7 linked regions of the Homo sapiens genome follow. The protein of the gene in region 5 purifies or fractionates together with the protein of the main gene of each other region. This does not show direct contact. Each region holds a gene or a part of one and is shown on either strand. Other genes may lie near its edges. The genes, in order: GNPDA2, MIDEAS, SNTB2, PTPN23, SNX12, AKR1A1 and PPIL3.

Region 1 (3,500 bases), on a different chromosome or scaffold from region 5:
TTACCAAATTCCACTTGTAATTTATATATGTGTGTGTATATATAATCTACAGTTAAAAATAAGTTTTTTCCTTTGTAATGACAACGTGGTTTTCTATTATCAGTGTAAACTATCGCAGACAGCTAGCTAATTGCTATAAGAATAGTTCAACATCAACTAAACTAAAATCAAAATTTTTTGCCAGATTCTTTAATATTCAACTAAAAATACTAATGCTGTAAATTATCTGTATATAACTTATTATTAACTTAATAGAACACTGATCAAAATTACATGAATTTGATCTTCAATAGAGCTGTCCTGAGGTTAATTTATACTTGAAGTGGCCAAGTATGGTTGAGATAGTTGATTATCATTGGGGGAAATTTGGTTTTAAAGTCAGACGTAAAATTGTATCCTGTTTTAGCCACTTAGTATCTGTATGACCTGGGAAAGTTTATTGAAGTTCAGTATAGGTACATCATTTGTAAAAGAGGATTAATATTAAACATTCCAAAATTTGTGAGAATTAATCATGTTGTAACATGTATAAAATGCCTTACACAGTGCTTGGTATATAGTTGGTACTCCATAAGTGCTACTTCAGTCTTCTCTTTCTCTCTCAACTGTAAATGCGGAAATAATTGTCCCTTAGAATTACTGAATTCCTTGGGATTTTTACCGAATTCCCTCTAGGGACATCCAGGAAGACTGAAATCTTCTCTTTAAGATAGTTTTTACTTCTACCTAGCAGAGTCAATAACATTTACTTTCTTGATAGAATGGTTGTTTATTGGAGCAAGAAACCAAGTTAGACTATTGCTTTTCAAATTAGAAGGTTATCTGTTTTAAATAAAATTTACTAATATTACTTCAGTAATCCTAGAGAACATTTGCATACTCCTGCTTTGTACGTATGACTCAATTTTGAGATAATTAACCATTTGTACCTTCCAATATTCAGGCTAGACAGTAGATATTTGAGAGTGTCTGAGGGGTGCATAGACCATCTAATCTTTAGATTTTCTAAGCTCCACACCAAAATCTGGTAGAATTACTGGAGTACCACATACTTCAACTGCTTATATCAAAAAATGTTTTCACTCATTTACTATAATGCAAAAAAAGGCTCTTAGTTGTTTGAGGTTCATTATTAAAAGTGGCTGCTTGAAAATATCTTCATTTGTAGACTTTCTTTCCCCCTTGTTAATTTATTGACCTTACATAAGTATGCATGTGACAAATCTCTTGTAGACCCAAAGGTAGGAAATAGATTTTACTATGGGGAATAACACTGATAAGAACACTTGATTTTATTCCTTTGCCTGCCTTCCAGAAAGCATTCATAGCATAAAATAATGTTTAAGCCTGTAATTCTTATCCAAGATGTCTGGTAGAACTTTCCTCTTTCCTTATAACTTTAAATCATTTCGTACTTCTTTTCAGCTAATTTTTTTTGGGAGGGGGTTATGTTTCTTCAGTATAAACCACCTCAGTTCTCCTTTTGAAATAGATGTTGCATAAGTTATAATTATATATGTTTATCACTGACACCACTAAAAAGAATTTGACTTGGTTTTTTAACCAGTTTGTCTTAAGCTTCCTGTAGTTGTTTCCCCGCTCCTCCCCGCTCCCAAATATATTTTAAGAGAGTTCCTGTGCCTCTTACATTAACATCTTCACTGTAGTCATGGATGATCCAATGCCTGACATTTTATATGTACCATCTAAAGGACATAATTGTGCAGAGAGAGAGAAGGATTATTGCATTTTCTTTGAACTTTTCCTTATTTGGGATGCCCTATTATTGGATATGTATTCATGAAAGAATCTCATTTGTTGATCTAGGTTTATCATCATTGGATTTTTAGATGAGGATTGGCATCTGGGTCTTACAACTACCCTTCTTTTGTTCCAGGGTTTGGTTAATAAAAACTCTAAGAACTGTGCCAAATGGGATCAAAATATCAGCTTTATTAAAGGTAAAGTTGAAATAGAGATTGCAGTTTGGGCTTGAAGCCAGAATGGGGTTTTTCACTCCTGCCCTTTGAATTGGAAACAGTAGAATGAGAAGAGCTCAAAAATGTTAATCTGCTATTGCTCATTCCAGGGAATTAGAGCAGAGGTCCCTTTCCTCTGAGGGAAGAGGGAAAGAAAAAGGAGGAAATACATACTCAAATGTTCTAATTCCTCCTCTGATGGCAAACGTGTTCAGAGAAAGGGTAAAAGGTGTATCATGCAATTCCTGACTTAACCCCAGCAATAAGATATACAAACATGGATTTTTAAAAATAAAATCTAGGGCTGGGATCCGGTGGCTCACACCTATAATCCCAGCACTTTGGGAGGCTGAGGTGCGCAGATCACCTGAGGTTGGGAGTTCGACACCAGCCTGACCAACATGGAGAAACCCCGTCTCTACTAAAAAAAAATACAAAATTAGCTGGGCGTGGTGGTGCATGCCTGTAATCCCAGCTACTCGGGAGGCTGAGGCAGGAGAATCACTTGAACCTGGGAGGCCGAGGTTGTGGTGAGCTGATATCGTGCCATTGCACTCCAGCCTGGGCAACAAGAGTGAAACTCCGTCTCAAAATGAATAAATAAATAATTTTAAAAATCTAGTTTTACAATAAAATCTAAATATATAAACTTTTAAAATATCTTAACGCAGTAGTGTCTTGGGTTTTTTGTTGTTGTTGAGACAGAGTCTCGCTCTGTTGCCCAGGCTGGAGTACAGTGGCTTGATCTTGGCTTACTGCAACCTCCACCTCCCAGGTTCAAGCGATCCTCCTGCCTCAGCCTCCTGAGTAGCTGTGACTACAGGCACTTGCCGCCATGCCCGGCTAATTTTTGTATCTTTAGTGGAGATGGGGTTTTGCCACATTGGCCAGGCTGGTCTCGAACTCCTGACCTCTGGTGATCCACCTGCCTTGGCCTCCCAAAGTGCTAGGATTACAGGTGTGAGCCACTGCACCCGGCCTAATAGTGTTTTTAAAAAGTAAAAATAAAAGAAGACAGTGGAGAAAATGTTAACCTTCTGATTTGGTTGCATGCTTGGATTCTTTGCTTTGGTAGAAAAAGGAAATAACTAATGGGATCAAAAGTAAATTAACTGGAATGATTCTAGGGTAACTCACAAACTGAAGGAAAAGTTAAAACAACCAAGTCTTTGGAAAAACAGAGAACCTCAGATCTCAGAAGTAGAAACTCATCAATCTTCTCCCTGCAGTGCTGTCATCCAGTGCTTCAGTTCACCATGCTGTCTTCGTTAACTGTATCCCTGGTCAAGATTCAGATCCAGACAGATATTTTGATTGGCTCAGCCTGAGACAAGTGCTTATCTCTAGACCACAGTCACTTTACCTAAGAGGGATATAGGAAATTAAAATTGTTCCAGCCCCTCTGGTGAGGGGAGCAAGGCAGAAGAGAACAAGGTGGGAGGTGGAATAAACTATACCGAGCTGACCAAAGAATAGCAACCATACATTCATTTATCCAGCCATTATTTAATAAGTGCGTCC
Region 2 (3,500 bases), on a different chromosome or scaffold from region 5:
TGAAATCTACACCGGTGGGCCTCAGAAGGAATGCTACACTTGAGAACTTCACAAAGCCAGCTCCGGAGCTGCTGCTCTTCCCTGGGGGCATTTCCAAGCACAGCATGGTCTATTAACACTCCTCTTAAGAAATTATCCTAGCCCCAGTCAGCCAGAAACAGTTTCCCCTCCAGACTGGGGGTATCTGTAAAAGCCCCTGGAAGCCAAGAGAGCCCAAAGGGTGTTGAGGTATGGGGGACTGCAGAGGTGAGCTGGAGGCTGCAGGCTCAGCACCATCTCACTCTGGAATAAAAGCCTCCATGCCACATGGAGAAAGGTGGCTTGGGCCTCTCTTCAGAGCCAACTGGCAAAGCAGGGCCCAGCTGGGAAAGCTGAACAGATTCCAAATATCAAGGGATGTCAATGTTTACCTACTCCAATTCCTCGTTCCACAGAGCAGTCCAGAGAAGGAAATAAACTCGTCCGAGGACACACAGCCAGGAGCAAAATCAAGGACTCCAATAACAATGCTTCATGCCTCCATTTAGGCAGGCCCCACCACTTGGCAAGACACTGGGCAAAGCATGGAGCCAAGGTTTATCCCAACATCACACAAACAAGGCTTCATCAATACCTCCAAAATTTCCATTGAAGGTGCTACTATGTGCCAGGCATGGTGCTAAGCACACTACACACATTATCCTGTGTAATCATCTCACAGAAAGGTAGATATTATCATTATTATTTTTGTAGAGATGGAGTCTCACTTTGTTGCTCAGGCTGGTCTTGAACTCCTTGCCTCAAGGGATCCTCCCAACTCAACCTCCCAAAGTGCTGAGATTACAGGCGTGAGCCACCACACCAGGCCATCAAGGTAGGTATTATTACTCCTCCTTTCTAAACAAGAAATCTGAGAAGACCTTAGGTCAAATCACTTGCCTAAGGTCACAGCAGTATAGAGGCAAAGCCAGGACTGGCACCTAGGCCTGCCTGTTCTGCAAACTTCCTCCCCCAAGAGTTTCAGACTTGGAGGTCACACCAGGCTGCCTGGGATAGACAGCAGCAGCCTCTGGGTTGCTCACGTCTGCTCCCTGGAGAGCAGCTTCAGCCCCTGAAAACCACCATGATGTTCTGAGATGTGGCTGGTCGGGTAAAGTGGGTGGGAGAGGCCGGGCAGGTGAGTGGCTTTGAAGGTGAAGAGGCTACAGGTGATTACCTCCAGTGGGCCAACCTGTGGAGGGCTCGGCATCTTTGCCTAAGAGGAAGTCACACCCCTTCCACACCCTCCAACCCCACAACTGAGGTTAGCCAACAGCTCTTTAAAAATAAAGCCAGGCCGGATGCAGCGGCTCCCGTTTGTAATCCCAACACTTTGGGAGGCCAAAGCAGCTGGACCACCTGAGGTCAGGAGTTTATGAGACCAGCCTGACCAACATGGAGAAACTCTGTCTCTACTAAAAATACAAAATTATCCAGGCATCGTGGCGCACACCTGTAATCCCAGCTACTCGGGAGGCTGAGGCAGAAGAATCGCTTGAACCCAGGAGGCAGAGGTTGCAGTGAGCCAAGATCGTACCACTGCACTCCAGCCTGGGCGACAAGAGCAAAACTCTGTCTCAAAAAAATAAATAAAGTCTTGGCTCTCCCCTGCTTGTCAGATAACTCAAGTCCCCATGGAGTCTAGGCTCCTGTCCCTTCTCCTGGCACCCTGAGCTCTGGGTCAAATCAGGTCTCTGCTTGGGTTCCCCCACTCAGGACACTGAGCATTAGCCCCCAGCCACAGCCACCCATATCTCCACATGGTGCTCTCAGAGTGTTGCTTCTCCCAATAACTTAACTTCCTAAATAAAATATATTCATCGCACATCCCGAGTAGAGGAGACAGAGGTGCCCACTCACTCCAAAGATCATTTGTCCAAACCTCAATTTCATGGCTCATAGAACCAAGACCTCAAAGGTAAAATGACCTGCCTAAGGACACATGGCTGACTACCTGAGCAGAGCTATAGTGACGGCCTCCCAGGTAGATGTTCTCACACTTAGCACCCCTAGACCTGGCATTGCCAGGTCCTTGACATTCGTCTGGGGGAGGTAAAGCAGGGGGTGTAGCATGTGTGTCAAGCCTACCAAGTCTTCATCAACCCAGGCTCTCCTGACTGGTCAGGGCTGGAAAGGGCCAAGACCCACCTGGTGCTTGGGGGTTGGATGGGTCGGTGTCTGGCAGTGTAGTGTGAGAGTAAAGAACGGGGGCAATATGGCTCCCTAGTACATGCTAGCGACCAGGAAGCAAAAAAATTTGCCACCAGCAGAGGGAGGGGAGTCTCAGTGTGGCTGCCTGGGGCCTCCTAGAAGGGCTGCAAACTGGGCACAGACAGACGCCCATTTGACTCCAGAGCCATCACATCAGCCTCACGCCCTTCCTCAGGCCCTGGTCAAGATGCAAGACTTTTGCCAAAGGCTCACACATTCTTTGCATTTCTCCAGTCTCTGAGCAGCTGCTGCAGGGCCTTTTCTCCTATGTTGATTTATTCTTTATTGTTCCTGAAATACACCCAGAGGCCTTTGGCACAGCATGCGGGCACAGCAGAGCATCCAGCCCAAGCCCCAAGTACACACCAACCAGACTCTCTGGGACCTGGGCCAAGCCAGCTGGAATGATGGGCCCCAGGTCAGACCCAGCAGCCAAGAAGGGAGACCAAAGATTCCACCTAGCCCCAGCCTTTGATTCCCCAGAGCTGTTCTCAGTACCTCAGAGGCTGGGATACCTTTAAGGGGGAGGACACACTTGGGAGGTCCCCAGGAAGCCCACACTAAGCTGAAACCAAGCCTTTCCCCTCTTCCTGTGCATGTGCCTGGCCGAGCAGTCCCCAGGCCCACAGCTGAGTCCTCCACAGAAGGGCCTCAGGGCTCAAGGCTGGGCTCCTGGCTGCCCTGTGAAGCATCTGGAGAGGGAGGCAGCAGGGAGGTCTTCCCCACCCTTCCCAGCCCAAGATATCTCCCCTACCAGCCAGTCTAATGGTGCCTGAATTCCTACTATCAGCACTTCATACCAAGGATCAAAGCATTGTTCCTTGTGCACATGAAAATAGCCGGAGGAAGTGTGGGAGCTGCAGGGTAAAAGTAGTCAGGGGCAATGTGTGCTGGCTTCTCCAATCACCAGCCTCTGTGAGCCTGGGGTTCCCTATTGGTGAATGGGCACAACAGTTTCATCTCAGTTATTGTGGGATTCAATGAGGTAATACATAGATGAAGCGCCGCCTGGCACAGGGTACGCACTCAATAAATGTGTTTCCTGTCTCCCTTGCTGGGTAGGGGTGGCTCAGACATCGTTATCAGTCTTTAACACCTTGGAGGAAATGAATAGTCCAACTCTTCCAGTTCCACAGCTGGCTGAGAGCAAGGCTGGCCAGGCAAGGGCGGGACAGGGAGACTCAAAGTCCTAGCAACAGTGTGGGGCTCTGCAGGCACGCAGAGCTTCCGGCCTACAGACCCAGGAGAGAGAGGTCTGGCCAGAAAGTCCA
Region 3 (3,500 bases), on a different chromosome or scaffold from region 5:
TTCAATTATAAAGTAATACATATTCATAGTGAAAAAAGTAATAACAACATTACAGAAAGACATAAAAGGAAGAAAAGATGCCCCCTCTTTCTTTCACCCCTTTAGTCTTATTTGACACCCTAGAGGTAAAGCCATTAACAGTTTCTTGTGTGTCTGTTCAAAATTTTTTCTACACATATACATGTATATATGTAGAATAACTTAAAATGTGGAACCCCAAAAATGCATCTCTCACCTCAGACAGATGTTTTCCTCTGTATAACTGAGTTAACAGAGTCATATAATACTGCAACATGTCCTTAAGTTTGTAAAGCTGTAGGTATGATGTTCTTGTTAGGTACACCTCACCTGTTTTCCAGATCCGGCATGCTTAGGTTTCTAGCAGCAAAGCACATTTTGAGAGGGATGATCTTCCTGTCCTTGGTGCTGTTCTGGTGTTTTGGCGAACCAGAGTCCTCACTGCCACTAAAGCTTGGTGACTGGGGGGCTGCACCTTCCCACGGCAGATCTGATACTAATGATGGCTTCTTGATATATGGTGTTACTTCTCGGATGAACTTGACTATGAACAAAAAAATCAAAGAAGAAGGTTAGTAATTTTGCTTCCTATAATAAATGATAACTAAAGTATTCACATACATGCTATATCTATAACAAAGTGGAGGAAAGAGCTGGGCGCGGTGGCTCACTCCTGTAATCCCAGCACTTTGGGAGGCCGAGGCGGGTGGATCACTTGAGGTCAGGAGTTCAAGGCCAGCCTGGTCAACGTAGTGAAACCCCATCTCTACCAAAAATACAAAAAATTAGGTGAGCGTGGTGGCATGCGCCTGTAGTCCCAACTACTCAGGAAGCTGAGGCAGGAGAATTGCTTGAACCCGGGAGGCGGTGGCTGCAGTGAGATTGTGCCACTGCACTCCAGCCTGGGCGACAGAGCAAGACTCTGCCTCAAAAACAAACAAACAAACAAACAAACAAAAAATGGGGGAAAAAAGTAAGTTAAAGAGCCATGAATCCCCTGGAGATAGATTCTAAGACAGACCCATCTAGGCTTTAGATGATTCAACCTTTAGAAACTTCTCCATACTTCTACCCACTGGTTCCCTGTCTTCTCAAGCCATATAGAACAAACTTAATCTCTCTTCTACATGAGAACTCTGTAATTATCTGAAGACAGATTTTTCTCTTCTCTCTCCTCCCCATACTAAGCTAAGTATTTCTATTTCCATTCAACTCAATCAACTTTTATTAGCTACCTACCAAGTGTTGGGAATTAGGCTAGCCAGTAAAGACACAAGGGCAAATGAGCCATGGATTCTATCCCTCAAGGAATGCCCAGCCTTGCAGGGGAGACAGCTATGTAAACAGGCCATTACAGTTCTTAAAATCAAGTGCAAAAATAAAGTATATTCAAGATAAGGTATGATCTAATAAGCACAAAGCCAACTCAACTGATCCCCCTTGCTTGTTCAAAATACTCTATTTCCATTAATGTGGCCCCAAATGAAAATCAAGCTTTTAGTAGATAGGAAGCTTTTTTAAGTTCAAATTTAAAACTCATAAAATACTTGTTTTACTTCAGTCATGACTACAATTACTGTCACTCGAGGCATGGTGTTCTTGTTTCAAAAACTAGACAAACTGGCTGGGCACAGTGGTACACACAGTTTCTCCTGTGAATAGGTAATACATGCACATAAAACAAAACTCAAGAGGTATAAAAGGTTTTATAATAAAAGTCCAGATTTCTAGCTACCCTGTCTCCATTCCTAGAGGCAACCATTCAAAGAGATGCCTGGTATGCTAAGCATGTATGAAAATAAACACATACACATGCGTGTATATCTGATCATACATATGGTGGTACATTATGCTTACCGTGCTGCACCTTAGTTTTTTTATTTAATAAGGTTGATAGTCTTTTATAGGCCTAATAGTTGATAGCTCATTCTACAGCATGATGTGGTCATAGAGATGCCTTTGGAATCAAGAAGACCTTGTTCAAATCCTAACTGTGCTTGCTATTCAAAGCTATGTGACCGCACTTAACTGTTCTGAGGTCCTCATCTACAAAATGGGAGTAACACTAAGCAAATAAAAATTTCAGGCACATACTAAACATTCAATAAATACAGTAGGTACCTTTCTTTTTCCTTCCCTAAATTAGAAAGTTAGAGAAGAGTTAAAAAATTTTAATGGTAATCAGTAGAAGAGTTAAAGTTATTTTCTTATACGTTATTAAAAAAGATTTACTGAAATTAAGTATAATAATAAAAAATATAACAATTCCAATGCTAGAATTTAGATGTAGTATATCTCTGTGCTTTTTGTGCATAGTTATAATACACGTGCTTCTGGGTAGCTGCCTCAGGTCACCAAGGAGATTTTTTTACCCTAGAAAAATCAGCAGGAGTGCAGTCAGTATAACCCTTGAGCAGCTGACTCAAGCATTTCAATACATACTTCAGCTTTATGCTTTGAAGGACTTTGGCAGAAATTCCTAAGGTTTCCAGTTACTGCAAATGGCAGAGGCATGCTTTTTGAACATTTAAGGCAGTACACTATTGGGCTACCAACTGGAGGAAATTAAAGACATTCTAAATGAATTCTTGAATAATATAGTGGTTAGAAAAGAACCCTTAACGATCTACTCAGTTCATTCAATCACACAGTAGCATCACTGAACTGATTACTACACACATCCTAAAACAAAAACAGACATACACATACAATTTATGTATTGCCTTATTAAAAGAGCAATGAATTTTATCTGAGTTGATGGCAATGCAGTCCATACCCCCATCTAATTAGCCATCCAGAATGGCTGAAGAGCTGTGGATGGACATCTGTTTCTATGTTTGGGAATGGCAAAAAGTTAACAGTCTTCTGTTTCAGTCCTATGTTAAGGCCTTAACCTGGACACGTGGCTGGATAAGCAGAGCCTTTACACCCCCACATGGAGCTTTCAGTTCAACTCAGAATCCACAACATATTTCAGAATCATTTCATTTTTCCTGATAGTTGAAGATAATCCTCAAAATAATTTAATTAAACACTGATGTTTACAAACTGTTTTGAGTGTTCAGATGCTGAAGCTAATTTTCTTTCTTCCATTCATGTATCCCTTTTTTTTTTTTTTTTTTTTTAAGATGCAGTCTCACTCTGTCGCCCAGGCTGGAGTGCAGTGGCACAATCTCAGCTCACTGCAAACTCTGCCTCCTGGGTTCACGCCATTCTCCTGCCTTAGCCTCCCCAGTAACTGGGACTACAGGCGCCCGCCACCACGCCCGGCTAATTTTTTGTATTTTTAGTAGAGACGGGGTTTCACCGTGCTAGCCAGGATGGTCTCGATCTCCAGACCTCGTGATCCACCCGCCTTGGCCTCCCAAAGTGCTGGGATAACAGGCTTGAGCCACTATGCCCGGCCTCACGTATCCCTTTTACTGAACGTGAAGGTGGGCTTCCTCCCACCCCAAAAGCATTACTGTGATCCCTTCTCTTCT
Region 4 (3,500 bases), on a different chromosome or scaffold from region 5:
TTCCACCTGCTTGCTCTGCCCCTTACTCACCTTGCATGGACTGTACAAGGTTCCTGACAGTGTCGGGCCGGACGCTGAGAGCCGCGCACTTCTCCATGAGCTGGGGTGGGATGTGGCTGTAGGCATCAAGGTTGTCCACCGTCTCGGGATCCAACTGCATTGAATCCATGAACTGGCTGTGGGGAGCAACAGGGCCAGGTGGGTGCTGGGTGCTGATCCAACTCTGACCATGTCAAAGGAGCCGCTAGGGCAAGCCTCACCACTCAATCTGAGGTCTCAGCAGAGAGCAAATTGTGACCTCGGACCCCTACTACCAGGTCTGGCCTGGTCTCACAGAACATGCCCAGGGCACTGCTGGAAACAGTGGAACAGAAGGCACCTCCTCCTCCCAAGACATGACTCCTGCCTTACACACTAGCCCCACCACCCCAGGCGGGAAGGCAGCATTGGGAAACCTGTTTGGAATGGACATTTCATTCCTCTCCCAGCATAGGCAGCCCTGGGGCCCCCAGAGGCCCGGGAAGTGCTGCCTGCCTCCGCCTCCCTGCCCAAGTCCCACACTCACTCCAGGACCTCATTCTTGTCCTCAATCTTGGCCATCATCTCCCGGAGCAGCTTGGCCTTCTCCTCACTGCAGAAGCGACAGAGCATTTGCTGAAGACCCACATCTCAAGACACCCCACCTCCCTCTGTGCCACCCTCCACCCACCTGTACAGTGACGAGGCCTCGTGGGCAGCCATGGGTACCAGTTTGGCAAAGATGTCAGGGCCTGTAACAGCTGGGTCTGTGGGGTTCACTGGCAAGGGCTTCACCAAGGGGGCTCCTGGGGGGGTGGGAATTGTGGAGATCAGGCCCACGCAGAGTCCTTGAGGCAGCCTCCTGTGTCCTGTCCCCACCCCACCGTCACCTCTGCCCCCACCTCTCAGCTCCCCGACCTTTTACAGGCTGAAGAGTGTCCAATGCTGGGACAGCCTCATGGTAAATGAAGTCGTTGTCCTTCTTGGCAGAATTGTACCTGGGGATCAGGAGCAGGGGGAGTGGGCAGTCACGGGGTGTCAGTGGGGATCCAGAACCTACTTCCCATGTAGATGCCAGCAGAGGGACAAGACCCTTCACAAAAAGAGGGAACCAGGGCCACCCCCACAGACTCACTTTCCCCCAATGACATCCATAGTGAAGCGAAGCGCGTCTTGCACAGTGTCAGGCTGGCCCTGTGGGGTTAGGGACAGGGGTGGGGCCTTAGCACTAACCAAGGCTGGCACCAGGACACCCCCTCAGTCCTACCGGGCTTGCTCCTATACCCTCAGGGCAGCCAGGCCTTCCTCAGCTTTACCTTGGCCAACTTGATGGCTTCATTGAGCTTGTCCAGGGCGCTCTGGAAGTATGCAACCTGTGGAGGGTGGCAGGAAAGCCTGCTCTGTCCTCCTCTGCTTGGACCCTTTCTCCTCCTGCCTCCCACCCGGCCCTGCCTGTCCATCAGATGACAAGCAGCTCAGGAGGCAGCCGGGCACCACCCCAGCCAACAGCAGCAAGGTGGCGCCACACCCTGCCCCAGCCACCTGCTCTGTAGGGAGCCTGCCCCACCTCCTCAGACCCCGAGGGACGAGGGCTGCACAGATGGGACAACACTTAAGACACCAGGCCTCCAGCAGGGTGATGGCCAGGGTGAGACAGAGAAGGCCACCCCCTGGTGTGTAAGGAGCGGGAGCACACCGGCATCTCACTGAAGGCTGCCATTGGTCCCCAGTCCCCTCCTCGCTGTAGCTCACCCGCTCCCCGAACTTCTGCTGCTCCTCGGCCTGCTTTCCCATGTGCAGCTGGGAAAGAAGAAGAGACGCCACGACTTGCTTCCTGAGCTGTGGCCACTCAGCCCCGCCCTGCCCCGCCCTGGGGCCCCAGGCCCTCACATGAGCCACGGCTGCGAAGTAGTAGATCTTCATCTGCACAAGTTTCTTCCAGTCCTTCTGGATCCGGCCCAGCAGTGAGGCAGTGTCGGGGTTCTCCAAGGCCCGGCATGCCTCCTTGTAGTAATCTACCACCTGAGAACAGGGTGGGGCCCAATGAGTGGGGGAGTCAGCAGTAAAGTGAAGGCCTCCCCTCAGCCCCGTCCCTACCTGTGCACTGATGCGGGCCACCAGAAAGCTCTTCCTGTTGTCCAACATCGACTTCTCCAGGAGGCACTCCTGAGCCTGGCCCTGGGGCGACACGTGAGGTGCACTCCCTCGCTCACCCAAGGCCTCCCGCTTCCCCTTCCCTTTATCCTTCCCCAGGGGCAGACTGAGGGATCCCTCTTCACTGCCCTCTCCCCCAGCTGCCCCCACTCCAAGCAGCACCACGGTGCTCCTGATTCAACAAAGCCAAGGCCCCTTGCTTGTCCCTCACTGCCTTGGTCCAGGATCCAGGCCCAACTGCCCCCTCCCTGGCCATCCCCTTCCCTGGATTCAACTCCACTCCAACCAGGGCGCCTCCTCACCAGCATGAGGTTGACGTTGAGCGTAAGGATCTGGCGGCTCATGTCGACGCTGTAGGCTTGAGGGAAGTGCTCCCGTAGGTAGGCGAAGGCGCCGGCTGCGCACTGGAAATGGGTACAGGAGACCTTCATGCCCTGGGAGGGAGTGGGAGGATGGCCTGTGTCCACTCCATGGGTCAGGATTCATCCATACTTGGGAGGCTGCCCCTCCCTGGTATGTCCACATGTTCCACTACTGCCCCTCTCCTCACCTCCTCAGACACCCGCTTGTCCATGGCCCCCAGCATGGAGTGCAGCGCTCCTGGGGAGGGAGGGGACAGTGTTAGGGGCCTGGGGCTGCTCACACCCATGTGAAGGTGAGACAGAGGGGGCACTGCTGTTATCCACAATCAGGACAACATGGCTCTGAGAACCAGGGCAACGAGTCCAAGGACACCCAAGCTGGAGGGAACAGGGAAACTCAGAAGTCCTGCCCAGCCCTCAGTCTCCTGCTCTGCATTTGGCAGAGGATGGAAGGGCTCCTGTCCAAGGGGTCCAATCTTGAAGCTTCAGGGATGTTTGCACAGAACTCTGGGGCTCCCCAAGCTTCTCCCTTGAGCCAGGCTAAGGCTGACTAGCAGGGTAAGCTGAGGCCAGCCACACTCTCCTCCTGCCTGAAGCAGCCCAAAACCACAGTGGGGAGGGGCTGTCCAGTCAAAGAAGAAAGGCCCTCTCTCCCAGACAGAGCACACAGTGGCAACTCTGTGTGGCAGCCAGCCCAGTAGAGCCTCGCCCCAGCAGAGGCTCCCCACGGGCCCAGCCCAGAAAACAGTGGAGGAGCTGGCAGGGCTGTGGGGAGGTCAGTGGAGGGGCGGGAATCCTGGAGTCCTCCCTTTATCAGCCCACTGCCTTTGTGGCCATCTGAAGAGCTGAAAGCTAGGCTGGCAGGACTGGGGAGTAGGGCCGGGGGAAGGGATCAGGCAGCTCACCAAGGTTGTAGAGAATACAGGCCTGCTCGTACTTGATGTCCTCATGGGCCACAGACTTGCC
Region 5 (3,294 bases):
TACACGGTGCTTTACCATCTCATTCCCACTCTGTCTCTCTCCCATGTGGCTGGAATTTTGTGTGTGCCTGCAGATTGTAGTACCACCACTGCCTGGGAAAGCCTTGAAGCGGCAGCTCCCTTTCCGAGGAGATGAAGGGATCTTTGAGGAGTCTTTCATCGAAGAAAGGAGGCAGGGCCTCGAGCAGTTTATTAACAAGTAAGCCAAGTTCCTGGGGGCTCCACTTGCTACTTTTGCCATCGTAGTCTTTCTATATGTTTTGTTTACCTCACCTTTTATTTTATTTTTATTTACTTATTTATTTATTTGAGACAGAGTCTCACTCTGTCACCTAGGCTGGAGTGCAATGGTGTGATCTCGGCTCACTGCAACCTCCGTCTCCTGGGTTCAAGTGATTCTCCTGCCTCAGCCTCCTGAGTAACAGGGATTACAGGCGCCGGCCACCATGCCCAGCTAATTTTCATGTTTTTAGTAGCGATGGGGTTTCACCATGTTGGCCAGACTGGTCTCGAACTCCTGACCTTAAGTGATCCACCTGCCTTGGCCTCCCAAAGTGTTGGGATTACAGGCGTGAGCCACCGCACCCAGCTCACCTTTTATAATGGGTACCATGATGTGGTGCCAATTGTGTGGTGGGCTGACTGGACAGTAAAACTCCATTCCTTTGAGTAGGATTCTGATCCTGTGTGTCAGGGCCTGAGAAAGCACTGCATGTTGGTTATATCTAGGGATTTCCCTGTCTTGCCCCTCTATCCCCCGTCCCCTTTACAATATTAGGGTTGAGGTGGTACCCTACTGCTGTCCTCTACTGGCTTGAACCTCAGGGCTGACCTTGCCCTTCTTCCCCTGTCCACATCCCCATCCCTCTGCTAATTCTCTCTGATTCTGAATACTACTGATAACCATCCTGGTTTCTTTATAGAATTGCTGGGCACCCACTGGCTCAGAATGAACGCTGCCTACACATGTTCCTGCAAGAGGAGGCAATTGACAGGAACTACGTCCCGGGGAAGGTGCGCCAGTAGGAGCCCCTCTCACCACCTGCCCTCTACTTTCCTGCTGAAATGACATTGGTTTTTACACTAAGCCTCTCTCTGTCTTTGATCTGAAGTTGGCTGCCCATCTCCTGGCCTGATAGACTGTCTGGCATTGTGCTCCCTGGTACCTGACTACACCATGTGGGCACTCTGCTAGGATCCTCTTCTCTGAGGAGAGGTGGGAACCCACAGGCAGATGCCCTTTGCTTGGGGTTGGGGTGGGTGGGTGGGGGGATTAGACTGGAAGGCAATTTCTTGGGCATTTACCCATGCCAGAAGGCTAACCTGGGGGGAGGGGGGCGCTTGTGCTGGTGAGGCACTTGGATACATACTGATGCTGCAAGTTCAGGGGATTTTTCTTACTCTTAGGTTTAACCAAGAACACTGAGCAGGGAAAAACCCTGCCTTTCCTAACTGCATGTATTTTTTCCTTTTTGGAAAGGTGGTAGAGACTCAGAAGCTTTCCTTGTTTTCTTCAGGCCTGCTCCCAGTTTTCTTAACAGTTTCTTTTGTTGCTTTCTCTCTCCCTTGTTGCTTTCCATGGCAGTAATCCTCCTAGAGTCCAAGCAGTCTGTTGTATGGAGCAGGGTGTGTGGGTTTTCTGGGCCCATCATTATGGCTGCTTCAGAGTCAGAAGAAAGCCATAGGGCAGTAGGGGAGCTCCTATTGCCTAGCCCCTCTCCCTTTGTGGCTCCCACTCTAGCTGCCTATTTTTGCTCATCAGCTGGTGAGTCAGTATGGGCCAGCAGTTCTCCCTCCCTAAGCCCTTGCTACTTTATGGGTTAGCTTTGCAGGTTTGGTGGCTTGAGGGGTGGGGGCAACTCACCACTGCCAGGTAACTCCCTGAAGGGTGGGAGTGGATTATCTTCTAGGCTCTTACCCGCGGTAGGGAAGGGCATCAACACTGTCTTCCTTCCATTCTCCTTTCCCCCATCCCATTTAGTGCTGCCACAGGGCAGAAGCACACAAACCAACCACACAGTCTCTGACTTCTCCTAAGCACTTTGAGTTGTTGAATGGGGCTCAGGGGCAAGAGTTTTTGCTGCCCTCCCCAGCGTGGTCACAGGGTTATTGAACTGCCTGCACTTGTTTCTCATGCAACTCCAGCATTTTCCCCAGAAGTTGAACTATGGATAGCAGCTTGGTATGGATTTCCTAAATCTTAACATTTGAAGCAGCTTCTTGAGGCTGGCAACTATCCTGGTTTCTGTCTTGGAGGGGGTGGTTTGTTTGCTGGGGCCCAACGTCTGTCCCAAGTGGTGGGGTGAGAGTAAGTTAACTTTGGTGCCAGGTGAGAGGTGGGGGCTCTTTGCTTAGACTCCCTATCATGGAAAGATTGGAGTTTTCTATGCAGGGCACTGTGGAAAAGGATTGCTGATTCTGACTGACCCTGATCAGAGAGATTAGGATTGTATTTTGACATAGGATTTGGAACCCATCTAAATGTTGAAGTTCCCTGAGACAGCTCTCCAGCTGCTGAGCCTGCGCCAGGGGCTAAGCAGCCCCTAATGAGAGGCTCTGCTCCCTTTCCCACCTCGCCAATGTTGTTGTTGCTGCCTTTTTGATTTGTATCCTCTGTTATAGACATTTTTTAAAAACGATTTCCTCTTTCATTGTGCACAAGTGCTGAGAGTCTGAGGCCCCATTTCTGCTGTGTATATATATCCTGACTCGGGGCTTTTATTCAGCAAACTGTTCATTCTTCTGTCAGACAATGTCATATTCAACTCTGTTCATATTAAACCACTGTGAAGCAAGCCTCTGTTTTCCTGCTTAAGTTGTAAATTTAGTATTCTTTAGTGTCTAGGATATGCTGGGTATTATGCAGAAATCATACAGTGTGGCCAGTGTCCTGAGGTAATGTTTTGCATTTAAATTTTTTTAGAAAGCAGAATCTTAACTTATCTTAATGATATTTACCTATCCTTTTTGCAACTCACAACTGACTTTGTCACAGAGGTAATGCATCTGCTTGCAGGAAGTAGCTGTAGGCTCAGTACCTGTTGTTTGAGTCAGATTTAGCAGATTTGGTTTTTAAGCTTGTGGGTTTGTGCTAATTTGGGCAGAATATATTTATTATATATGTGTGTGTGTATGTGTGTATGTGTGTGTCTGCATATGTAATACATGTACATAAACACACATGCATGTGTTCATCCTCTGACACACCCACACAACACCAACAAACATTTCTTCTATAGGCTTTTTATCTCAACTGACACTGTTTTTTTTCCCAAATAAATTTGACACAGGCAGA
Region 6 (3,500 bases), on a different chromosome or scaffold from region 5:
AGATGGAGTCTCGCTTTACCGCCCAGGCTGGAGTGCAGTGGCACTATCTCAGCTCACTGCAAGCTCCACCTCCTGGGTTCACGCCATTCTCCTGCCTCAGCCTCCCCAGTAGCTGGGACTACAGGCGCTCACCACCACGCGCAGCTAATTTTTTGTATTTTTAGTAGAGACGGGGTTTCACCGTGTTAGCCAGGATGATCTCGATCTCCTGACCTCGTGATCCGCCCGCCTTAGCCTCCCAAAGTGCTGGGATTACAGGCGTGAGCCACCGCGCCTGGCCAAAAAAAGCCATGCTTTTTCATCCTTCCAGATCGTAACCCAGGTGTTAAGTTTACATGGAATGCCTATGCCCCCTCCTCTTCCTAGACGTAGATATCTCCTCTCCCCTAGGAAGTCTTCCTTAACTCATCCTCAGGGAGTTATCCACCCTTCTTCCAGCACAGGGCACGGCACTAATGGTGAGCTCTTCTCACATCTTCTGCTGAGACTTACTTATTACTGTAACCCCAGGTGCTCAACAGAAAAGTCAGCACCTTTTCTAAATGAATAAAGGGAGCAGGAGGGTTACAGGTGCATACCCTGGGGTACACACCATGTGAGACTGCCTTCCTTTTTCCAGAGTTAAACTCCTGTAGCTACAGCTAAGCTGCTGTAGCAGAAGAGGCTAAGATCCCATGTCAAGCTCCTCAGCTTGGCATGCAAATGAGTGTTCCTATCCTGCTCTGCTGCTGTGACTTACAATAAGTTACTAACACCATCCTGCTCAACCCCCTGATTCCCCAGATGAGGCTCTGGCAAGGCTCACTCAAAGGCATAAGGCCAGTGCATCAGGTACAGGTCCAGATACTCCAGCTGGAGGTCAGCCAGAGTCTTCCGGAGGGCAGGCTCCACATCCTCGGGGTGGTGCTTGGTGTTCCACAGCTTGGATGTCACAAACAGCTCCTCCCGAGGCACCGCCTAGTGCAGGGGGCAGGGCCCACAGTGAGAAGAGCCATGAGCACGTGGTCTCACCCACCCTCAACTCTGGGAGAGGAACTGGAAGGAAGCTGATGCCAGATTCCCTCCAGCTGGGCCCCAGCCCTAGCTTCAGCTTCTAAGTTCTCTTATCCCACCTCTATTTACAACCCCAGTCCTTACCTTGCCTGGTCCCACGTCCTCCTTCAGGGCCTCCCCAATCTCAGGCTCATTGCCGTAGATAGCAGCACAATCAATGTGGCGGTAGCCTACGCTAAGGGCATACTTAACAGCTGCTTTTACCTGCCAGGTGAGAGAAGCAGAGGTTTCAGCTATGTTGGTTTCAGCCTTCTACTGTCACCACCCCAAGGTCAATGCTGGGGGAAGGGGGCTCAGAAATATAACAGGCACATCTATGCAGTGGAGGTGAAAAGATGGAAGATGAACTGGGCGCGGTGGCTCACGCCTGTAATCCCAGCACTTTGGGAGGCTGAGGTGGGCAGATCCCCTGAGGTCAGGAGTTCGAGACCAGCCTGGCCAGCTGGAGGTCAGCCTGGCCAACATGGTGAAACCCCATCTCTGCTAAAAATACAAAATTAGCCAGGTGTGGTGGCAGGTGCCTGTAATCCCAGCTACTCAGGAGGCTGAGGCAGGAGAATCACTTGAACCCAGGAGGCAGAGGTTGCAGTGAGCTGAGATTGTGCCACTGCACTTCAGCCTCGGCAACAAGAGCGAAACTCCATCTCAAAACAAAGAAAGAAAAAAAAAAAGATGGAAGATGGTTTCAGTCTAAGGGACCAGAAGCCTCTTCAGAGGCTCCAAACCCTTTGCTCTGCTCCCACCCCAACCAGTCTCTAAGATGCCTTCCTACCCAAGCCATCTCAGCAAGGTCTAGCAAAAACTAACAATATTTTCCCGGCATCTACCATAAAGAGGGCTTCAGTAAATATTTTTTCAGGCTGAGCACAGTGGCTCACGCCTGTAATCCTAGGACTCTGGGAGGCTGACATGGGAGCATTGCTTGAAGGCAGAAGTTCAAGACCAGCCTAGTCAACATAGTGAGACCCCCACCTCTTTAAAAAAAAAAAAAAAATTAAGGCCAGGCGTGGTGGCTCACGCCTATAATCCCAGCACTTTGGGAAGAAGAGGCAGGTGAATCACCTGAGGTCAGGGGTTTGAGACCAGCCTGGCCAACATGGTGAAATTCTTTTCTCTACTAAAAATACAAAAATTAGCTGTGCATGGTGGCATATGCCTGTAGTCCCAGCTACTCAGGAGGCTGAGATAGGAGAATCGCTTGAACCCAGGCGGGGGAGGCTGCAGTGAGCTGAGATCATGCCACTGCACTTCATCCTGGGCGAGACAGAGTGAGACTCCGTCTCAAAAAAACACAAAAAAAATAACAACAAAAAATTGAAAACAAATTTTTTTTTTTAAATAAAAGCCAGGCGCGGTGGCTCACACCTGTAATCCCAGCACTTTGGGAGGCCGAGGTGGGTGGATCACCTGAGGTCGGGAGTTTGAGACCAGCCTAACCAACACGGAGAAACCCCGTCTCTACTAAAAATACAAAATTAGCTGGGCGTGGTGGTGCATGCCTATAATCCCGGGTACTTGGGAGGCTGAGGCAGGAGAATCGCTTGAACCTGGGAGGTGGAGGTTACAGTGAGCCAAGATCATGCCATTGCACTCCAGCCTGGGCAACAAGAGTGAAACTCCTTCTCAAAAAAAAAAAAAAAAAAAAAAAAATGGCTGGGTGTGGTGGCTCACGCCTGTAGTCCCAGCACTTTGGGAGGCTGAGGTGGGTGGATCATGAGGTCAGGAGATCGAGACCATCCTGGCTAACACGGTGAAACACCGTCTCTACTAAAAATACAAAAAATTAGCTGGGCGTGGTAGGGGGTGCCTGTAGTCCCAGCTACTCAGGAGGCTGAGGCAGGAGAATGGTGTGAACCTAGGAGGCGGAGCTTGCAGTGAGGCGAGATTGCGCCACTGCACTCCAGCCTGGGCGACAGAGCAAGACTCCATCTCAAAAATAAAATTAAATAAATAAATAAATAAATAAAAATTTAAAAATTTTCAAAAATAAATAATTTTTTTTTTCAATCAGAAGACAGATGGATAAATAGAGAAAAGAAGTATAGACCATGGAAACAAGTTCCAGGTTCTAAGGAGCTGGTTAGAGAAACACAGGAAAAAATTCCTAGGCCAAGGACATACAGGGAGTTGTGTAGACAGACTCTGGGAACTCTGGGAGCACAGGCCAGCAAAAGAGGTTAGAAGGGGGAAAAGATTAAGGAAGGCAGATAAGTAGGCTGAAAGCTGGAGGCAGATAAGTGGGCTAAAAGCTGGACCCAGAACTCCCTAATGAGAGAGAAGAAAACAGGCATCAGATAGAAGGATGGGTCAGTTAATTTTGCTAAAATCCAGACTGGAAACACGGCATCAGCAGCAGAAACAAGGGTACCCGGCCCTAGACACAAAGCACCCAAAGCTCTTGTTGTGGGTGCCTGACATAGTATTCAAGATCCCCACCCGGGTGCCGA
Region 7 (3,500 bases), on a different chromosome or scaffold from region 5:
TACCACTTCGGATGCCAGTTCCAAGTCCCGATTGTGATCTGTACTATCTGACTAACCATGATATAATTTGGGATTTTTCATGCCCCCCAGCTCTGTTCAATAATTTTCAAAAATGGCTCATAGAACTTAGGAAAGCACTTTATTTATTACTATGGGCTATTATAAAGGTTACAACTCAGGAACAACCAAATGGAGGAGATGCATAGGGCAAAGTCTGAGAGAGGGGCACAGCGCTTCCATGCTCTTCTCGGGGTGTGTTACCCTCTTAGTATCTACTTGTGTTCACCAACCTGGAAGCTCTCAAACCCTGTTTAGGGTTTTTACGGAGGGCACATTAGGTAGGCACGATTAATTAAATCACTGGCCACTAGTGACTGGAACTCAATCTCCAGCCCTTCTCTCCTTCCCAGAGGTCAAGAATAGGAGGTCACTGAATGTTCCACCCCTCTAAAAATACATGGCTGATTCCTCTGGCAACCAGCCCTCCATACTGAAGCTATCTAGAACCCCACCAAGAGTCACCTCATTAGCATAAACTCAGGTATGGTTGAATGGGGTTTATTATGAACAATAAAATATTCCTTTCACTCCTGTCACTCAGGAAATTGCAAGGTTTTTAAAAGAACTATGCTGGAAACCACGGATGAAGTCCAAATATGTATGTCTTATTACAACACACTAGTCATAAAGATTTCTTTGCTACAGGAAATACATGGAGAAAGTATGTAGATGACACTATTAGCAATACTGCCCTACAATGAGAGTCCTAAAGTAGGTGACCACTCCACTTTGTACTTGTTTTTTTTTTTTTTGAGATGAAGTCTCGCTCTGGTCCCCCAGACTGGAGTGCAATGGTGTGATCTCGGCTCACTGCAACCTCTCCTCCTGGGTTCAAGCAATTCTCCTGCCTCAGCCTCCCAAGTAGCTGGGATTATAGGAGCCTACCACCACGCCTGGCTAATTTTTGTATTTTTAGTAGAGACGGAGTTTCAGCATGTTGGCCAGGCTGGTCTGGCCTGACCTCAGGTGATCCGCCCGCCTTGGCCTCCCAAAGTGTTGGGATTCAGGCATGAGCCACCAAGCCCAGCAGTTAATTGTTTAATTATAGTATTTCTTTCTTTTTTTTTTTTTTTGAGATGGAGTCTCACTTCCATTGCCCAGGTTGGAGTGCAGTAGCACTATCTCGACTCATTGTAGCCTCTTCCTTCAGGTTCAAGCAATTCTGCATCAGCCTCCCAAGCAGCTGGGACTACAGGCACATGCCCCCATGCCCAGCTAATTTTTGTGTTTTTAGTAGAGATGGGATTTCACCACATTGGCCAGGCTGGTCTCAAACTCTTGACCTCAAGTGATCTGCCCACGTCAGCCTCCCAAAGTGCTGGGGTTATAGGCATGAGCCACCACGTCTGGCCTAATTATGGCATTTCTACTTTTTGCTTCTGGATAACAACAAGAAGTAATAAAAATAGGAGAAGAGAAGACTGACAGTTAACAGCCTCCAGCAATCCCACTTCATGTTACCACCAAGAAAAAATATATTGAGAGCTATTCTTCAAATACAAGTTTTGGAAATTTCAGTCTAAAACATTTGCTAAGAAAGAGTGGCTTTTGATCTCTTGACCTCGTGATCTGCCCGCCTTGGCCTCCCAAAGTGCTAGGATTACAAGCGTGAGTCACTGCACCTGGTCATCTGACTGCATTTTGACTGCAACCCGTCACATGAGGTCAGATGTGGAATTTTCTACTTGTGGCATCATGTCAGTGCTCAAAAAGTTCCTAATTTTTAATTTTCAGATTAGGGATTCTCAACCACTGGTATGTACTTTAAAAAATTAACAGATTTGTAGGCCTGGCGCAGTGGCTCACGCCTGTAATCTCAGCACTTTGGGAGGCCAAGGCGGGCGGATCACGAGGTCGGGAGATTGAGACCATCCTGGCTAACATGGTGAAACCCCGTCTCTACTAAAAATACAAAAAATTAGCCGGGCGCGGTGGCGGGCGCCTGTAGTCCCAGCTACTTGGGAGGCTGAGGCAGGAGAATGGCGTGAACCCAGGAGGGTGAGCTTGCAGTGAGCTGAGATGGCGCCACTGCATTCCAGCCTGGGCGACAGAGTGAGACTCTGTCTCAAAAAAAAAAAAAAAAAAAAATTAGCAGATTTGCATTTTATTTTGCATTTTCACAAAATGGGTACTTCAACCAAAACATTTTGATTTTACCCCTAAATATAGACATTTAAGTCTTTAAATTATAAGTCTTAAAGGCTATCCCACCTTCTAGGTCAGTAAGAGAAACAGAGGAGGTAGAAAACATAGGTCTCAGGTAAAAAGTTAAAAAAACCCAGCAGGTAGAACTGAGGCAGTTAAGTAGAGTCAAGTATATGGGAAACGGACCCCTTGGAGAACTAGAGGAAAGTTACTGGATCATCTTCCCAGAAAAATGTGTGTGCATCTGTATACAACAAACAAGGAATTAATGAACCTAAGGTTAATCTTTGTTCTAAACTCTACAGTTTTGTCGCAAATCCAGTAAAATGAGTCCTGGTAATAACTGAACAATAATTTTGAATGATGTTGGTTAAGGGAGAAAATAAGAGGGAAACTGGGTTATTTACAAACATAAAAAAACTACTAGATGTTGTAATATTTCTTTTCTCCTTGATTATTATTAATGTGTAAATTAGATACATGTATATGGAATGAAAAAGAAAAGATCTGTCTAGATCTCACTGCAGCCTTGACACCCTGAGCCCAGCAATCCTCTCACTTCAGCCTCCCAAGTAGCTGGGACCATAGGTGTGAGCCACCACACCTGGATAATTTTTAAATTTTTTTGTAGAGACGGGGTTTCACTATGTTACCTAGACTGGGAGTCCTCTATTTTTAATTAACCTAATTTGGCATCCAAACTATTAAATAGAACAAACTCTAGAATTGTGCCTTGGTTTATTAAGCATGATAATTATTTGTTGAACGAACAGACAAATTGACTTCCCACTGATTTATAAAAGCAACTCCCAGACATAGTACTCTTAATAGATACCCTGGCAGAAACTGTGAAATACCTTCCTAGGAGCCATTCTTCTTACTCGGAGAAATCTAATTTTAGTAAGGGTGGCAATGTGGCTGAAATACATTTTCTACCCTCCATTGTAGGTAAGGAGTGGTCACATTACTAAGTTCTGGGTCTTCTGGGAAAGTTTTTTTTTTTTGAGACGGAGTCTCGCTTTGTCACCAGGCTGGAGTGCAGTGGCGCAATCTTGGCTCACTGCAATCTCCACCTCCAGGGTTCAAGCCATTCTCCTGCCTCAGCTTCCTGAGTAGCTGGAATTACAGGCACGCACCACCGCACCCAGCTAATTTTTGTATTTTTAGTAGAGATGGGGTTTCACCATGTTGGCCTGGATGGTCTTGATCTCCTGACCTCATGATCTGCCCTCCTTGGCCTCCCAAAGTGCTGGGATTACAGGTGTGAGCCACCGCACCCGGCTTTTCTTTTTTTC

What was found.
Region 1: the proteins of SNX12 (region 5) and GNPDA2 fractionate together in Homo sapiens (co-fractionation; one large-scale study listed by BioGRID). This does not show direct contact.
Region 2: the proteins of SNX12 (region 5) and MIDEAS purify together in Homo sapiens (affinity purification with mass spectrometry; one large-scale study listed by BioGRID and IntAct). This does not show direct contact.
Region 3: the proteins of SNX12 (region 5) and SNTB2 purify together in Homo sapiens (affinity purification with mass spectrometry; one large-scale study listed by BioGRID and IntAct). This does not show direct contact.
Region 4: the proteins of SNX12 (region 5) and PTPN23 purify together in Homo sapiens (affinity purification with mass spectrometry; one large-scale study listed by BioGRID and IntAct). This does not show direct contact.
Region 6: the proteins of SNX12 (region 5) and AKR1A1 fractionate together in Homo sapiens (co-fractionation; one large-scale study listed by BioGRID). This does not show direct contact.
Region 7: the proteins of SNX12 (region 5) and PPIL3 fractionate together in Homo sapiens (co-fractionation; one large-scale study listed by BioGRID). This does not show direct contact.

Annotation. Positions count from the first base shown.
Region 1 is NC_000004.12:44,713,057-44,716,556, reverse strand, and holds part of GNPDA2 (glucosamine-6-phosphate deaminase 2), read left to right. Parts: intron 1-1,897; exon of another isoform or gene 1,898-1,961; intron 1,962-3,500. UniProt on the Homo sapiens protein: Catalyzes the reversible conversion of alpha-D-glucosamine 6-phosphate (GlcN-6P) into beta-D-fructose 6-phosphate (Fru-6P) and ammonium ion, a regulatory reaction step in de novo uridine diphosphate-N-acetyl-alpha-D-glucosamine (UDP-GlcNAc) biosynthesis via hexosamine pathway.
Region 2 is NC_000014.9:73,750,304-73,753,803, forward strand, and holds part of MIDEAS (mitotic deacetylase-associated SANT domain protein), read right to left. Parts: intron 1-3,500.
Region 3 is NC_000016.10:69,242,664-69,246,163, reverse strand, and holds part of SNTB2 (beta-2-syntrophin), read right to left. Parts: intron 563-3,500; coding exon 349-562; intron 1-348. UniProt on the Homo sapiens protein: Adapter protein that binds to and probably organizes the subcellular localization of a variety of membrane proteins. May link various receptors to the actin cytoskeleton and the dystrophin glycoprotein complex.
Region 4 is NC_000003.12:47,405,021-47,408,520, reverse strand, and holds part of PTPN23 (tyrosine-protein phosphatase non-receptor type 23), read right to left. Parts: coding exon 3,440-3,500; intron 2,773-3,439; coding exon 2,723-2,772; intron 2,607-2,722; coding exon 2,475-2,606; intron 2,197-2,474; coding exon 2,116-2,196; intron 2,041-2,115; coding exon 1,909-2,040; intron 1,819-1,908; coding exon 1,771-1,818; intron 1,392-1,770; coding exon 1,335-1,391; intron 1,213-1,334; coding exon 1,154-1,212; intron 1,017-1,153; coding exon 937-1,016; intron 825-936; coding exon 710-824; intron 632-709; coding exon 566-631; intron 177-565; coding exon 31-176; intron 1-30. UniProt on the Homo sapiens protein: Plays a role in sorting of endocytic ubiquitinated cargos into multivesicular bodies (MVBs) via its interaction with the ESCRT-I complex (endosomal sorting complex required for transport I), and possibly also other ESCRT complexes.
Region 5 is NC_000023.11:71,058,747-71,062,040, reverse strand, and holds the end of SNX12 (sorting nexin-12), read left to right. Parts: intron 1-73; coding exon 74-198; intron 199-922; coding exon 923-1,025; 3' UTR 1,026-2,794; downstream 2,795-3,294. UniProt on the Homo sapiens protein: May be involved in several stages of intracellular trafficking.
Region 6 is NC_000001.11:45,564,326-45,567,825, reverse strand, and holds part of AKR1A1 (aldo-keto reductase family 1 member A1), read right to left. Parts: intron 1,258-3,500; coding exon 1,138-1,257; intron 958-1,137; coding exon 806-957; intron 1-805. UniProt on the Homo sapiens protein: Catalyzes the NADPH-dependent reduction of a wide variety of carbonyl-containing compounds to their corresponding alcohols.
Region 7 is NC_000002.12:200,872,078-200,875,577, forward strand, and holds part of PPIL3 (peptidyl-prolyl cis-trans isomerase-like 3), read right to left. Parts: intron 1-3,500. UniProt on the Homo sapiens protein: PPIases accelerate the folding of proteins. It catalyzes the cis-trans isomerization of proline imidic peptide bonds in oligopeptides. May be involved in pre-mRNA splicing.